2 linked regions of the Homo sapiens genome follow. The protein of the gene in region 2 purifies or fractionates together with the protein of the main gene of each other region. This does not show direct contact. Each region holds a gene or a part of one and is shown on either strand. Other genes may lie near its edges.

What was found. Proteins that work in one complex are often made in the same cells at the same time.
Region 1: the proteins of TMEM65 (region 2) and MPZL1 purify together in Homo sapiens (affinity purification with mass spectrometry; 2 studies listed by BioGRID and IntAct, with this or other methods). This does not show direct contact.

The regions. Positions count from the first base shown.
Region 1 is NC_000001.11:167,786,694-167,792,419, reverse strand, and holds the end of MPZL1 (myelin protein zero-like protein 1 isoform a precursor), read right to left. Parts: intron 4,601-5,726; coding exon 4,499-4,600; 3' UTR 501-4,498; downstream 1-500. UniProt on the Homo sapiens protein: Cell surface receptor, which is involved in signal transduction processes. Recruits PTPN11/SHP-2 to the cell membrane and is a putative substrate of PTPN11/SHP-2.
Region 2 is NC_000008.11:124,305,557-124,315,141, forward strand, and holds the end of TMEM65 (transmembrane protein 65), read right to left. Parts: intron 8,506-9,585; coding exon 8,404-8,505; 3' UTR 633-8,403; downstream 1-632. UniProt on the Homo sapiens protein: Essential for maintaining proper cardiac intercalated disk (ICD) structure and function as well as cardiac conduction velocity in the heart.

The DNA of each region.
Region 1 (5,726 bases), on a different chromosome or scaffold from region 2:
AGGATGAAGTCAGTGGTTCCCCAGTCCAGTTAGCACAGGAACTACCCAGAGGGGTCAGAAGGGAGCCAACTGGGGTGAGAGAGTATCTGAGTTTCCTCTAAACACTGCTCAACTCAGCTCCCTCAGGGGTGGAAGCTGCTCTCATAAATAAAAAGTCCATCTTTGGTTGGCAAGGCCCCTATGTAGCTTGGAAACCAGAGCCCCAGCAGGTGGATGCCCTCCGACACTTAGTGCTGACTTGGAAGGAATTGCAGAGATGACAAAAATGTGATTCCATCACTCACTGCTGCCCTTGTGTGGTGAAGGAAGCATCCCTTTTCTTTTTGTCACATCACGCAAGATGGATGCTGTTCACATGTGAGAATTACTCCCAGGGGAGTTCCTGCCAGCTGTAACTCATCTTCTCCCACTCAAGAACGCATTAGGTTTTGCAAGCCCAAAGTTATGCAAGGCAGGGGCTCATTGTGAATCCATGGTAATTTATAAAATTACTAAGTCACTGCGAAGCCTCAATGTTTTATTAGTAACACATTATTTGTAACATAGTTCTCAACAAATTAAGTCACCACATTGTCTTCCAGACTGAGGTTAAAGCTCTCAGACATCTGTGCCTACCACCTAGACTACACTACCCTCTCAAGTTCCTAAGGGACTCTCTAACCAGCTCCTAAGGGACTGGGAGAAAACTGCAACTGCATTTCAGCACATTTATTTGAGTAAGGAAGCAGTTTGGTACTTCCTTTTGGTGTGAGAGGCCACAGGGCATAGTGGTTAGGAACAAGGCTGTGGATCAAACAGCGGCCCCAGGCCCAGCCCCTCTTCTCTGTTCCTTTATTAGCTAAGTGGCCCTGGGTAAGCCATATAATCTTTCAAACAATGGGATTAAGATTAGTACAATTACTGTTAACTCACAGAAATAATAGAGAAAGAAATGCAAAGTGCCTGGCTCACACCAAGTATTTGGTAACTACTAGTTACTTCCATTCATGTCACCTGTCACCTCCACCCTGTGGCAAGCTCCTTGAGGAGCTTTGTCTTGTTTTGTTTCCTTATGCTTAGCACAGTGCTTGGCACAGGATTGTTCTCAGTGTAGGTTGCTGAATGGATGAATGCTTCCACCTACTCATCCATCCACGTAACATGTATTGAGCAGCTAAGTGCCAGGTGCTGTTCCCTTTACTGCAGACGGAGCAGTGAACAAAACAGCAAGGTTCTGGTCTCTTGTTAACTATGTTCTAATGCGGGAGAACAGACAAGTGTGTACTGGGAAAGAGGGAGAGAAATAGAGTAACTAGAGCAGAACTGAGGGGGCCAGGAAGGCTGAGGCGGTGGGGTGGGGGGCTTGCTCTTTTATATATCACAGAAGGTCTCCCTGAGGAGGTAACATTTGAGCAGAGGCTTAAAGGAAGTCAGAGAGCAAACCACAGGAATATTGGCAGAAGGCATGCTTCAGGCCCAGGGAACAGCATGTGCAAAGGCCCAGAAGCAGGCACACGGACGGCATTTTTGAAGAAAAGAAGGCAGGTGTAGCTGGAATGATATGAGTGAAAGGCATATCTCTTTTTCTATTCTGGTCAAAATGAGCACACAACACAATTCAGAAATTGAAAAAGATGTATTAAAATATTCACAAAAATACAACTGAAGATCAAAAAATAATAATGAGCTTGATGGTTTTTCCCTAGCTGATATATTTCCATTGAAAAACTAGAGATAGTTTGAAATTTCAATCTCTAAGTAATGCCTTTTGAGTGCTCCCATACAGAATTAGCGCATAATTTTAAGACGACCCTGTTTGCCAGGACGAAGACATGGAGAGGGCAGATCTGCCCTTTAGGCAACCTTAGTTCGTTATCTGCAACCAGGAAAGGAGTGCTGAGGCACAGGGAAAAGGGGAGCCAAAAGGGCTGCAGGGGTGGGTGTGCAGGGCTTGGGAAGAGGTCCTGCCCTGAGAGGCTCATCTCAGTGTGAGCAGCTTCCTTCAGGGAAACCTGTCCTGGCAGAGCACCATGCTGGCAGCTGCCCTTGCCTGGGGGGAAGGTTGGTGAGAACTGGTGAGGATTCTCTGCCAGAATGCCAGGGCACTGACAGAGTTTGAGGTGTCTGGTTGGGCAGGAGGCCAAGAAGTCGGGCTGGGGAAGGGAGTGGTAAGGGAGGAACAGGCCTCCAGGTGTCATTCGAGTGAGTGGCCCCCACAGCACCAGCTTCACCAACACATGGTCCCGGCACCGCAAGAAGAAGTGAAGGCTCTTGCTCTCAGGGAGCTCCGAAATGTTTCATTTATTCACAGGAACTGTTGAGAAAGCAGTGAAAAAACAATGCCCCTTTTCTCTGTAAAAAACGACTGTAAGGAAACATGACACAGGCCTGTCTACAATGTGTGTCCTCTGTACCTCAAGCACAGCCCTGGTCAGCTATGTGGTTTTCATGGTGGCAAAGGCTCACCAGGAGTCTCAGCTTGAAGGATGGTGACAATCTCAACACCCTTCCCCTCCAAACATAAGAGGCCTTCCAAAGGCTCCTATAGTTTTCAAAATAGATGCCCAAAAAGTTTTAGGATGCAAGGCAGAGTTGACCACTTTGTGGAAATGTCTCAGGGCCAGCACTGTGTGTCACTCTCTTGGGCTGGGCCTATGAACATGGAAGGCAGCAGGGCAGGCGTTTTTTTCTCCATTCCACACAGAACACAGAGCAGACGCTGCCCAGCTTCAGACATGTGTGGTGACCAAACCTGATCCCTGTTGACTCACACAGATGTGGCATGTAAGGTGGAGCGTTACAAGAATAACAAAAATAGCTCCTCAAAAAACAAAAGGCTTCATGTATGCAACAGCATTAGTTTTGAAGCTCATATGCCCTTTATCTTACCACCTTGTGCACACCTCAAAATCTCAATCCTGTTTTATTCCCTTTGTGAATTCTGTTGGAACTCAGCCTTCAAACATCCCCAGAAGATGACAAGATGAGAAGAAAAAGCAGCAGCTCATAATGGACTCCAAACTACAGGGAGAAAAAGTAACATTGCCCCTCACTCCCACTCACCCCAAACACGTTCTGCAGACCATCTAGACAGTAATTCTTTCCATAACTGTGGGCTTTCGAACAATTTTAAAAGGGGGGAAATTTAAAAAAAAATTCAGAAAATGGGAGAAATGACAACATAAGTGTTGAATGATCTTCACCACACTTTCCATTCCCAGTAAAAAGTAAAAACTCATAGATTTTAAGTGCGGTGGGGAGTAGTGAATAGGAGAAAACAAGTTTTAGGGAAGGACAGCCAAACTGTCTAATCTAGGCTCTCATTAACCTCAACAGTCTTTGAGGCACCATGAAGCTGTTATAAAGCCATGACTGATGCTGCCTCTTGCTGGAAGCATGACTGACGCTTTATAAAGAAGGTGATTCTTGCCAGCTGCAGTGGTGCAACTATAGTTCGTTCCAGCTACTCGGGAGGCTGAGGAGGGAGAATCACTTGAGCCCAAGAGTTCAAGGCTAGTCTGGGCAACATAGTGAGACTCTACCTCAAAAAAAAAAAAAAAAGCGAAAGAAGGTGATTCTCTAGAGAGCGAGCTCTGGGAGATTGGAGAGCGGCAACATAATGATACCATTTCTGCCTACTTAGAAGGAAAGAAACTCCTCTCCTTTAGCTGTATGGTGACTGTTATTTCAAGCAGAAAGGACATCAGCAAAGAATAAAACCGATACTTTTTACTCTCCACGTTACAAAAGTTCTCAAGCAAAGCTTGGATTTTCTACTTAATCAGTATTGATCCAACTGTGTCCAGAATGAAGTGACCTTCGGCATTTATCCTTTGCTAATCTTGCTATTATGAATCCAGAAATTGATATGACACATTTCAAGGGTGCAAACTTAAAGTAAGTCTACACAACATGTAAGGCTAACAATTGCCCCATATTTTAGTGAGAAAAACTTCAAAAAAACTTCTCAAATTGTTTTCAAGTGGCATAGCCAATGGGTATTTTTTAAAAGCGGCAGACAAATAAATGGTACTGATACTGTGCTAAAGGCCACCCTGGGTATGCTTCCATCATAGCATCTCCATCCTCCAACTACAGTAAATGCTAAGACTAATCAGTCTTAAGCCCTTAGATTAAAAGGCCATGTCTACTGGAAATACTACAGGATCTGCTATTGTCTCCATTAAGGCAAACCATTTCTAAATGATGGTGAAAGGAATGTTTCTGAAATCTCCCAATTGTAAATGACCTGAAAAGAAAGTACAAAAACAGCAAGACAATGGGTACATATGTAGAATCATACCATCTTTTCATCATGCAACACTGGCTCCTCATATCAGGATGACTAAATAGAATATTTATACATATCCTTTGTACACATCTTTCTCTCCCTCTGTGAGTACACGTGTACTTGTCCTTGCCTGGGTCTCCAAGGCTACATGTGGTAATGGGCTACATTTTCTGCACGAGAGTCCAGTTTGGTTTTGTTTCTTGCTGAGGATATGTTCTAGGTATTCTCTTAATTCTTTCGGATATCCGCATACACCACAGACTCTGACTTGTTAATCTTGTCACTGTGATGTCCGCCGGAGTGGTCTAACTGTGCATATATGACTGGGCCCTGGAAAAGGGAAGCAGAAGGATTAGAGGACTGAAAACGCTGGCGGTTCCTTCAGCTACAGGCATAGAAGCAATGATTAACGTGATCACATCAGGGTTCCAAAGCAAAGACTTCCCTCTTGAATGTCTTCAGGAAGACTTCTTATGGATGATACATCCAGGACTGACTTTGAAACAAGATTGGACATACGTTGACAATAGTTAAAGCAAGTACATGGGGCTTTGTTACATTATTCTTTCAAACCTTTTTGATGTTTGAAAATTTCTGTAATAATATATTCCTTCTTAGGAATATCTCTTATCTTAATAGCTATCACAGAATTCCTCAGCTCTTACAATTGGGGTAAGAGTCTTAAGGACTAAGATGGGAACTTCCACGCACCTGAGACCCACAGAAATCATGAGCTTCAGAATAATCAATCCATGCAAGAAACCAACATATTTGGTGCCACCCAAAGATACAATCAATTTGATCTGGTCACGTTATACAAATAGGTATAGTTTTAAACAAATAGTTTAAAAGCACTTCAAATATTCTTCAATACAACTACTTACAGCATAATTCTTTTAGTCTGAGCGTATTGTGACCAATACAAATATTGCTTCCTTGATTTTTAATATCAGATAACTGTTCTTCCTGTTTTAAAATAAAATTAAAAAGAAAAAACAAAAAGCCACAATCTACACAGATATAAAGAAAAACCCTAAATGGAGTAAAGTAGAAAAGATCCTCTTCTCAGCCTCAGCAGTAAGGAAGAGGTTACAATTCCAGGGAATTGTCAGGGTCCCATTCAGGAGAGCAAGGGAAGGTTGGGTGGCCTGGGGGCAGAGCGAATTCCCTAACTGTTGGGGGAAGAGGTCAGATAGGTGGCTGCATTTCATGACTCTTTCAGTCTAGACTCTTAAAATTGTAAACAACAACAAAATAGCCCTGGTTTTAAAAGAAAGATTTAATATTACCCAATGTCAACTTTTCTCCCAATCTAGGGGAACTCTCCTTGAGAAGTCTAATAACGTGCTTAAGCTTTCACCTTTGAAATCATAAGCTCAATAGCCAAAAGCACGTGGTTTAAAATAAACACACTTACCCTCATCCAGGAGCCCTAACAACCTGTGTCCTTAGTGTG
Region 2 (9,585 bases):
TTATCTTAAGTGAAACATCTCAGAAACAGAAAGTCAAATACCGTATGTCCTCACTTGTAAGTGGGAGCTAAATAAGGTGTACAGAAGGACATAGAGTGTGGAATGATGGACACTGGAGACTTGGAAGGGTGGGATGGTGGAAGGCAGGCATATAAGGGATGAGAAATTACTTAATGAGTACAATGTAGACTAATCAGGTAATGGTTACATTAAAAGCCCAGGCTTCACCGCTATGCAATATACTCATGTAACAAAACTGCACTTAAACCCCTTAAATTTATACAAACTTTTTTAAAAGCAAGAAAAAGAAAACACCCTTTGGGGACATCAATATTTTTCCAGAGCATTAAGTTCTTGAGTGTTAAGTTCTTAAATGTTAAGATCTTAAGGCCAAAACGTTTAAAATAATTGATTTATGATATCTAAAGAATTTGAAGTATAACCACAAAACTGTTCTGTTTATAAAATATGAGAATAGTAAAAGTATTAAGCCCAGAGTTAGGTAAGCAATGTCACGTTAAGAAGAGAGGGGGCAGGCACATTCTAAAAATTGTACATCAATATACTTAATATTAATCCTCAGGGCAAAAGGTTAGAGAACAGATTCAGCAGAAAGTAAAATAACCATTAGCTCCATTAACCCAACACAAGTTTATTTACTAAGTCAAGTCAAACTGAGGAGTATTTGTTTCTTTGGTAGTTGGTAGACAAAGAATACATATACATATTCTATTTCCCATTAAGCATTTGATCATGTTACAAAACAATGGCCTAGAGAACTATCATTGAAGATTTACCAAATCTGCCTGAAGCAAAATGTGATAAACTGCAGAAATGGTGGAGAATGACACTGGAAGTCATAAAGTTGATTCTCAAACACGGGTTTGAACTGCATAGGACCGCTTATATGCATATTTTGATAAATATATTGAAAATTTTTTTGGAAATTTGCAACAATTTAAAAAACTTGCAGATGCACCATGTAGCTTAGAAATACTGAAAAACTAAGAAAAAGGTGTGTCATGAATTCATATAATATATGTAGACACTAGTCTATTTTATCATTTACTACCATAAATATATACAAATCTATTATGAAAAGTTAAAATTGGCCGGGCGCAGTGGCTCACGCCTGTAATCCCAACACTTCAGGAGGCCGAGGCAGGCGGATCACCTGAGGTCAGGAGTTCAAGAGCAGCCTGGCCAACATGGTGAAACCCTGTTTCTCCTAAAAATACAAAAATTAGCTGGGCATGGGGATGCATGCCTGTAATCCCAACTACTTGGGAGGCTGAGGCAGGAGAATCACTTGAACCCAGAAGACAGAGGTTGCAGTGAGCCGGCATGGTGCCACTGCACTCCAGCCTGGACAACAGAGCAAGACTCCATCTCAAAAAAAAAAAAAGTTAAAATTTATCAAAACTTAACGCATACACAGACTATACATTGGAGCCATTTGCAGTTGAGACAAACATAAAGATGCAGTACTAAATTACAACTGGATAAGATTAACTATAGTACATACTGCACTACTACCATAATTTCAGAGCTACCTCCTGTTGCTGTTGCTGTGAGCTCAAGTGCTGTATTCACTTAAAATGCCATGTGATGTTTATCATCTCCACATGGGCAGTTCATCTCTCCAGTAAATTGTGTATCGTAGTAAAAAGTGATCTCTCATGGTTCTCAGTTATTTTTCATCATGTTTAGTACAACCATAAACCTTGCAATAATACCAAGGGACCCATATGAAGTCCCGCTAGTGACGCTGGAAGTGCTCCCAAGGAGCAAAGTCATGACATTACAAGAAAAAGTTAAATTGCTTGATGTGTACTGGTCTGCAGCTGTAGTTGCCCATCCTTCAAGATAAATGAATCCAGCATAAGGACCACTGTTAAAAAAAATTAAGAAAATTTATGAAGCCATTACTGCATCTATACCAGCAAACCTTACACTTTTTGTGATATACCTTTTTATCTCGTATTAAAAATGCAACTTTTATGTGGGTGCAGTATTGCTACAAGAAAGACGTACCTATAGGCTCTAATATGATTGGAGAAAAGGCGGTCATTATATGACAATTTAAAGCAAAAGGAAGGTGAAGGATCTAAATCTAGAGAATTTAATGCCAGCAAAGGATGGCTTGATAATATTAGAAAGAAGTTTGGCTTTAAAAATGTTAAGATAACAGAAGAGGCAGCTCCTGATGACCAAGAGGCAGCAAATGAGTTCCCAGATGCCATTAAGAAAATCATTGAGGAGAAAGCATATCTACCAAAACAGGTTCTTAAGGCAGACAGAAGTGCCCTATTATGGAAAAATAATAATATGCCACAAAGAACATTTATTAGTAAAGAAGAGAAGTGAGCACCAGGGTTTAAGGCAGAAAGGGACAGGCTAATGCTATGGGTTTTTGCAAATGCTGTTGGGTTTATGATCAAGACTGCACTTATCTATAAAGCTGTTAACTCCCAAGTCTTGAAGGGAAAAGATAAACACCAGCTGCCAGTCTTCTGGCAGTATAACAAGAAGGCCTGGACGACAAGAACCCTTTTTCTGGATTGGCTCCATTGCTGTTTTGTCTTTGAAGTCAGGAAGTACCTTGCCAGTAAAGGACTGCCTTTTAAAGTTGTTTTGATACTGGACAATGCCCCTGGCCACCCACCCAGAACTCCATGAGTTCAATACTAAAGGCATCGAAGTGATCTATTTGCCCCCAAACACAATGTCTCTAATTTAGTTTCTAGATCAGGGAGTCATAAGGACCTATAGGCTCATTACACACAGTACTCTATGCAAAGAACCATCAGTGCCATGCAAGAGAACTCTAACAAAGAGAACATCATCAAAGTCTGGAAGGATTCCACCACTGATGATGCCATTGTTGCTACAGAAGACATGAAAGCCATCAAGCCCAAAACAATAAATTCCTGCTGAGGAAAACAACCAGATGTTGTGTGTGACTTCGCAGAATTTACAACAGAGCCAATCAAGAAAATCATGAAAGAGGTTGTAGATATGTCAAATTAAATAAATAAATAAATGGTGGAGGGTAGAAAGTTTCAAGATCTGAATCCTGGAGTGAATCAAAAGCTAAGCAATTCAAAAGCTTAGCTTTTGGAGATGAGTGCCTCTGAATCAGTGCCACAGAATGAGGAGGAAGACATTTAGAAGCAGTGCCAGAAAACAAATCAACATTAGACAATCTGGTAGAAGTGTTCTGATTATTCAAGACTGATTTTACAACATGAACCCTTCTATCACACAGGCACTAAAACTAAAGCAAATGGTGGAAGAAGGATTAATACCATATATAGAAATATTTTGAGAAATGAAAAAAAGCAAAACATCAGACAGAAGTTACAATGCATTTTCATAATTACACGTAGTGTGCCTGCCTTTCCTGCTTCCCCTTGCACCTCTGCTACCACTAAGAGCAAGACCAATCCTTCCTCTTCCTCCTCCACCTCAGCCTACTCAACATGAAGACAAGGAGGATGAAGACTTTTATCATGATCCACTTAATGAATAGTAAATGTATTTTCTCTTCCTGATGATTTTAATAACATTTTCTTTCTTCTACCTTTATTTTAATACAATATATGATACATATAACATACAAAATACGTGTTAATCTACTGCTTATTTATCAGAAAGGCTTCCAGCCAATAGGAGGCTATAAGTAAAGTTTGGAGAGAGTAAAAAGTTGTATTCAGATTTTCAGCAGCACAGGGGGTTGGTGTCCCTAATCCCTCCATTGTTCAAGAGTCAACTGTAAATGATTTGCTGATGGGAATATCTACAGACTTTTTTGAATTCTAGGGTTGCTTCCCCACACTTCTGTGCCATTTTCACCTACTGCTGTCAGTAAACATGCAAGAAGTAAGTATTAATCTTAATATTTAACTGTTACTCTTTAGGCTTAATGCAGTTATTAGTAATATGAAACAAAAAGAAAACATTTTACAATGAATTCCAAAGTGAAACATATTTCACATATCTGAGATTTTCTTAACACCAACTTTCTAGTACCTAGCATGATACTTTCTCTTCACAGAATATCTGTACTGTTTGTACCTTCGCTTCCTTCAGGTCTTCACTGACCATCTTCACTTATGACCACTGGTACTTTCTATCCTCTTTATCTTGTTTCATTTATCTCTATAGAACTTACCACCATCTGACATAAACAATATTTAAGTGTATATTTGCAGGTGGGCGCAGGGGCTCACGCCTGTAATCCCAGCACTTTGGGAGGCCGAGACAGGTGGACCACCTGAGGTCAGGAGTCTGAGGCCAGCCTGGCCAACATGGTGAAACCCCGTTTCTACTAAAAATACAAAAAAATTAGGCTCGGTGGCACGTGCCTGTAATCCCAGCTACTCAGGAGGTCAGGAGTCTGAGGCCAGCCTGGCCAACATGGTGAAACCCCGTTTCTACTAAAAATACAAAAAAATTAGGCTCGGTGGCACGTGACTGTAATCCCAGCTACTCAGGAGGCTGAGGCAGGAGAATCACTTGAACCCAGGAAGCAGAGGTTGCAATAAGCCAAGATCACGCCACTGCACTCCAGCCTGGGTGACATCAAGACTCCATCTCAAAAAAAAGTATATTTGCTTTTCTGTGTTCTCTTCCCCTATTACTACCCACCCCAAAAGAATAAGCTTCATGAGGGTACAGATGTTCTGGTTGTTCACTCAGTGCCTTGAACATCCTAGCACATAGTATGTAATAAAGAACACAAGATTTCTTAAATGAATCTTGGATTGTAAGCACAATATTCTTAAATTATAGATAAGAAAATGACTCCATGAATCTGGAGGTAAAAAGGAACCTAGGCAGAGAGCAGACATTGCAAAGCCCATGCAACTGATGTCCCTACTGCCTAGCAGTTAAGAAGACAGGCTTCATACTTGGACAAAATAGGATTCCAGTCCACTTATTCGTAGTGGCAAACTAACCTCTTCATGCCTCAATTTAGCTATGAGAAAATAGAGATGATAATGATAATAGCCCCAACTTAATGTTGTCATTAAGGTGATTAAATGCAATAATGTGTGTAAATTACTAGTGCATAAAGGACCAAATAAGTGTTTAATAAAAGGGAACTATTATTATTACTACTACTACTATCATCATCATCATCTCAGTCAGGATCCAAAGCCAATTTTTTAGTATTTCCCAAATAATTTATGGTAAGATAGGCTAACCAGTTTCTAAGTCCAGACAACTGAGAAAAAAAGCAGATTAGAGAGATAAAAGTTGCCAGAAGCAAGATCAGAAAAAAAAATGAAAACTATAAAAACTAGATTCTCAAGGTACTGCATTACCACACAATAATAATATACATAAAGATAATGCTTAGCCACTAAGAAAAAGGTTATATTATATTTAATATACTGTCTTAAGATGGCGAGAAAATATAATTCTAAAATTAGAAAGATTTACTTCAAAATGGCTCATACAAACTTTTGGTATAAAAGATAAACTTCCATTACCTTCAAAATTTATGTTCTAGAGAAAAAGAATAAAGTAAATGAGACTATTACATAAACAGCTTGGATATATCTGCTGTAAATACCCATCAGTGTGACTTATGTGAGTCTATCTAAAGCTTTTCTATGGGCTCACTCTTCACTCATACGCTGATGTTGTATCTCAGGTGCAGATTCCAGGGAGGTGGTAAATTGTTCCATTCACTATCTCAGTGACATTGCTGCCACCTTGTAACAAATCCGTATTCATTAATCCTGTTTGCTTTAGTAACAGAATATACCAAGGCCCTCTGAGATTAGTAAGAAATCAAATTTCAAAATCAAAACCACATTCCAAATTTCTTAAAAGATACTTTTTTTGTTCAATTCCTTTGTAAAAACATTGGTCACCATTTAACATACATGGCAACAAAATGCACCCAATTTACATGCATCAACAAGTTAATAAATCATAATACATGGACAACACAAATTTAAACAAACAGGACTAAAGTAGCTCATGTTGCATTTAACTATGGTTCTTGTGCTCCTAATAGAGAAGTAGCTAATATGAGAAACAAACAGTTCCAGTTTCAACCTAAATTAAAGTTATTTGTGGCAAGTAACATGAAACAATGATCATATGAAGTCATTATCTTAAAAAGAACCATTCTTCAGAAATCACTTTGTGGCAAAGCACCATACTAGGGTAGACTATGATCTTAAACATATACCTTCAGTTAAAGACAAATGGTCTCCATTTTTTGAAAATTACCTGAATGATTCAAATTTTTATTATGCCCATAAATTAAAATTATCTTTCAATGTGAAGGTTATATATTTTGACACCTTAAATAATTCTGGAGATGTTCAGTTAAACCAGTAATTCCCTGGGACCAGATTACTTTCAAGAGCAAGAAGAAAAAACAATAATCAAAAGCCCTTTCTAAAGTCACAGGCAAGGTTTCTGATACGGGATTTAATTAATAAGAAGTTAAGCACCACAGTAAAATACATTTTTAGAAAACAGAGTGGACTGCCATCAATACACAAGTTAGGGACAAAAGAAAGCACTTACACTTTACCCCACCCTTCCCCCCCCAAAAATTTAAGCACTCTAATCCTATCAATCAGAAATTTTACAAAGGATTTTTTGTGTGGTTATCTGTGTGTGGTTATTATATGGAAGATACAAACCGAAATTCTATTTAAGATCTCAAGTTCTAGAATCATGATTTGATTCAGTAAGAATGTCACATTATTTGTGCATGTTATATATTTATTTTTAGATTATATGCTATATTTTTATGCTTTCTCTCCTCAAAGTCTATGATTAAAGGATGGCACTTATGCATTCTGAAGCGCATGAGAGAATTTATGACAAACTGCCTTGTGAAAAAATATCTACTCTGAAGAGTTCAAAGTAATTATGTATAAATAAAACCTTAAAATAAACTGCTGTAAAACCTCTGCATCTATTTAGCAACACAAATAACTTCAAAAGCCAAAATACTATTTTAATTTTAAGTTTCTCTCCTCCATGATGTGTTTAATTACGCTGTTACAAGTAAGACTAATTTTTTAGCATGTGTAACAGACCACATGCTAAAAAAGTTTAAGGGTTCAGAAAACTAAAATTTATAATTCTTACATGGTTATACTTAAGCCAGAAGTACAAGACTAGAAATAAGTAACTTCAACCTAAAATATGCTTTAAATACCACAAAAGAAGAAAAAAGAAAAACAAAGGGAAAAAGGATTTCTCCTCATGTAATTTTTGAGTAGACTATGTAGCAAAAAAGCAAAATATTAAATATCTAGTTTTCACTTCAACAGAAATTATTCATAAATAAAATTCACTAAATAAGATATAATGAGATTAGGAGTATGAATATGGGGTATTCAGACTTATTCCATTCAGATGAGAAGATGACATCTTTGGAGGGAAAAAAAAAAACCTTACCAAATAATATAAATTGTATCTCATTAATCTTTCAAACATCACTTCAACTTCATCATTTATACCATAAACCTTCTTGACAGTTCCTATTTTCCACCTTTTTTTAAAAAAAGCTTTAGTCTCTTAATTTCCAAGCATCATGTTAAATCCCTTAGTTCAATCTAATTCCACAATCCCCATTTCAAAGACTCTAAAATAATCATTTGCTTCCCCTCAAAAGTCAGAATCCACCATGTAATTATTCAAAACTGGGAAACTAAAAGGTTAAAAAAAATCAACTAAAAATTGTACGCTTGTTAGTATACACGGTTTCATGTAGCAGGGAGACCACATAATTGCTCTTTGTGATTAACCCTCTGGCCCTTAAAATAGTAAAGTCAGAAAATTAAAATAAGTAATATATACTTAAAATACTTAAAACCTGTATCTATATCCATTTTCAATAGATGTGACAGTTAAGAAATGACTGAAATTATATTATTATAAATGTTTACTGCATAACAGTACAAAATTGATGTTCCCAAAAAGAGGGTAAAAAAATCTTTAACTGACATTAAACATCTTAAGTAATTTGGAAAAATCCCAAGGTTGAAATGTAACTATCAGGGAACAACGAAAAATGCTTTCATGCATGTACACATGTTAAGTAACAAATAAGCAAACCCCAAGTCAATACAGTACATCAATGACACTTAAATAACATTATGAATATAAAAAGAAAGGATAAAATGTTGACTGCTATTGATGAAAAAGCATTTCAACAATATACACAAAATGATACTAAACAGCTTTTTAAAAAAGATGTCCTAAGAAGATCAAGCCACAATAAGTTAGTGTTTTCCATAATACATGCTAAATTATTTGATCCCATATCTATACTGTTACTGTCTTAATTCCTAAATGTTGTGACAGCATATTTAATTACTGAGGTACATTAGTTTACATCTTTTTATAGGTATTCTAAGAGGATTAACTTTTCGTTTCCAGTTTTTCATCTTCTTCACCTCCTCCAAAGAAAATTAAAGGAAACATTCCTAGAATGCAGCCAATAGTCACCCCAACAGCTTTGCCCTAAGGAAACAAAAGAGAACATTTTTAAAGTTACTTTATCTCTGATAACAAGAAGGCAGAGAAAAAATCTCACCAGCTCTTCTCAATATATTTGGATTTGCTACCCTTCATATATATTCCTCTTCAATATTTATCCCTGTGTATACCTAATTATATGTAGATATAATCATTATGTAAACATAGCTTTGTTTTCTTCCTCAATCCGTACCCCTGCATAGCCACACATTTTCTCACAAACTCTTTTCCAAACTGCTACACAAACTTAAAGACTTCTAAGTTCAACTGAATTGACGGGTCTATATTCTACTTAAATCTCTCTTTACCGCCATAGCCACTGCTACTTCTTCAACATTATAAGTGAAATAACAATAAGCATTTCCATGTATATTTCTTCCCCAATGATTTGTTTAAAAGTCAAACAGTATTAATATTTGTGCATCTTCATGAAGCATTCATCCTTGACAACGCTGCACATACTTACATAGCAATTTCAGTATACATAAATGTAGACACACATACCAATTATCCTGCAACTTCACCTACATTATAAAAATTTTATTTCATTTTTATTTATTTTATTTGTTTTAGAGACAGGGTCTCCCTTTGTCACCTAGGCTGGAACGCAGTGGTATGATCATAACCCACTGCAGCCTTGGCTCAAGCCATCTTCCTGATCTCTTCCCGAACTCTTTGGCTCAAGCGAGCCTCCTGACTCAGTCTCCCCAGTAACTAGAACTACAGACACATGCCACTATGCCTAGATAATTTTGTTACTTTTATTATTTTTTTTTTTTGTAGAGCCAGGGTCTCCCTATGTTGCCCAGGCTGATCTTGAACTCCTGGCTTCAAGAAATCCTCCCACCTTGGCCTCCCAAATGAGATTACAGGCTCTGGGAGCCACCACACCCAGATCATTATAAAAATTTAAAATTGTTATTTTTGTAAATGGTTTTCAAAATTTGCATTCCTATGATGACTATCAAGTTTATATACTTTTCAATTAAGTTTCATTTCCTCATACAAATATTTATTGAGAAGCTACTATGTGTCAAACTCTGTACTGGGTGTACCATGGAGATG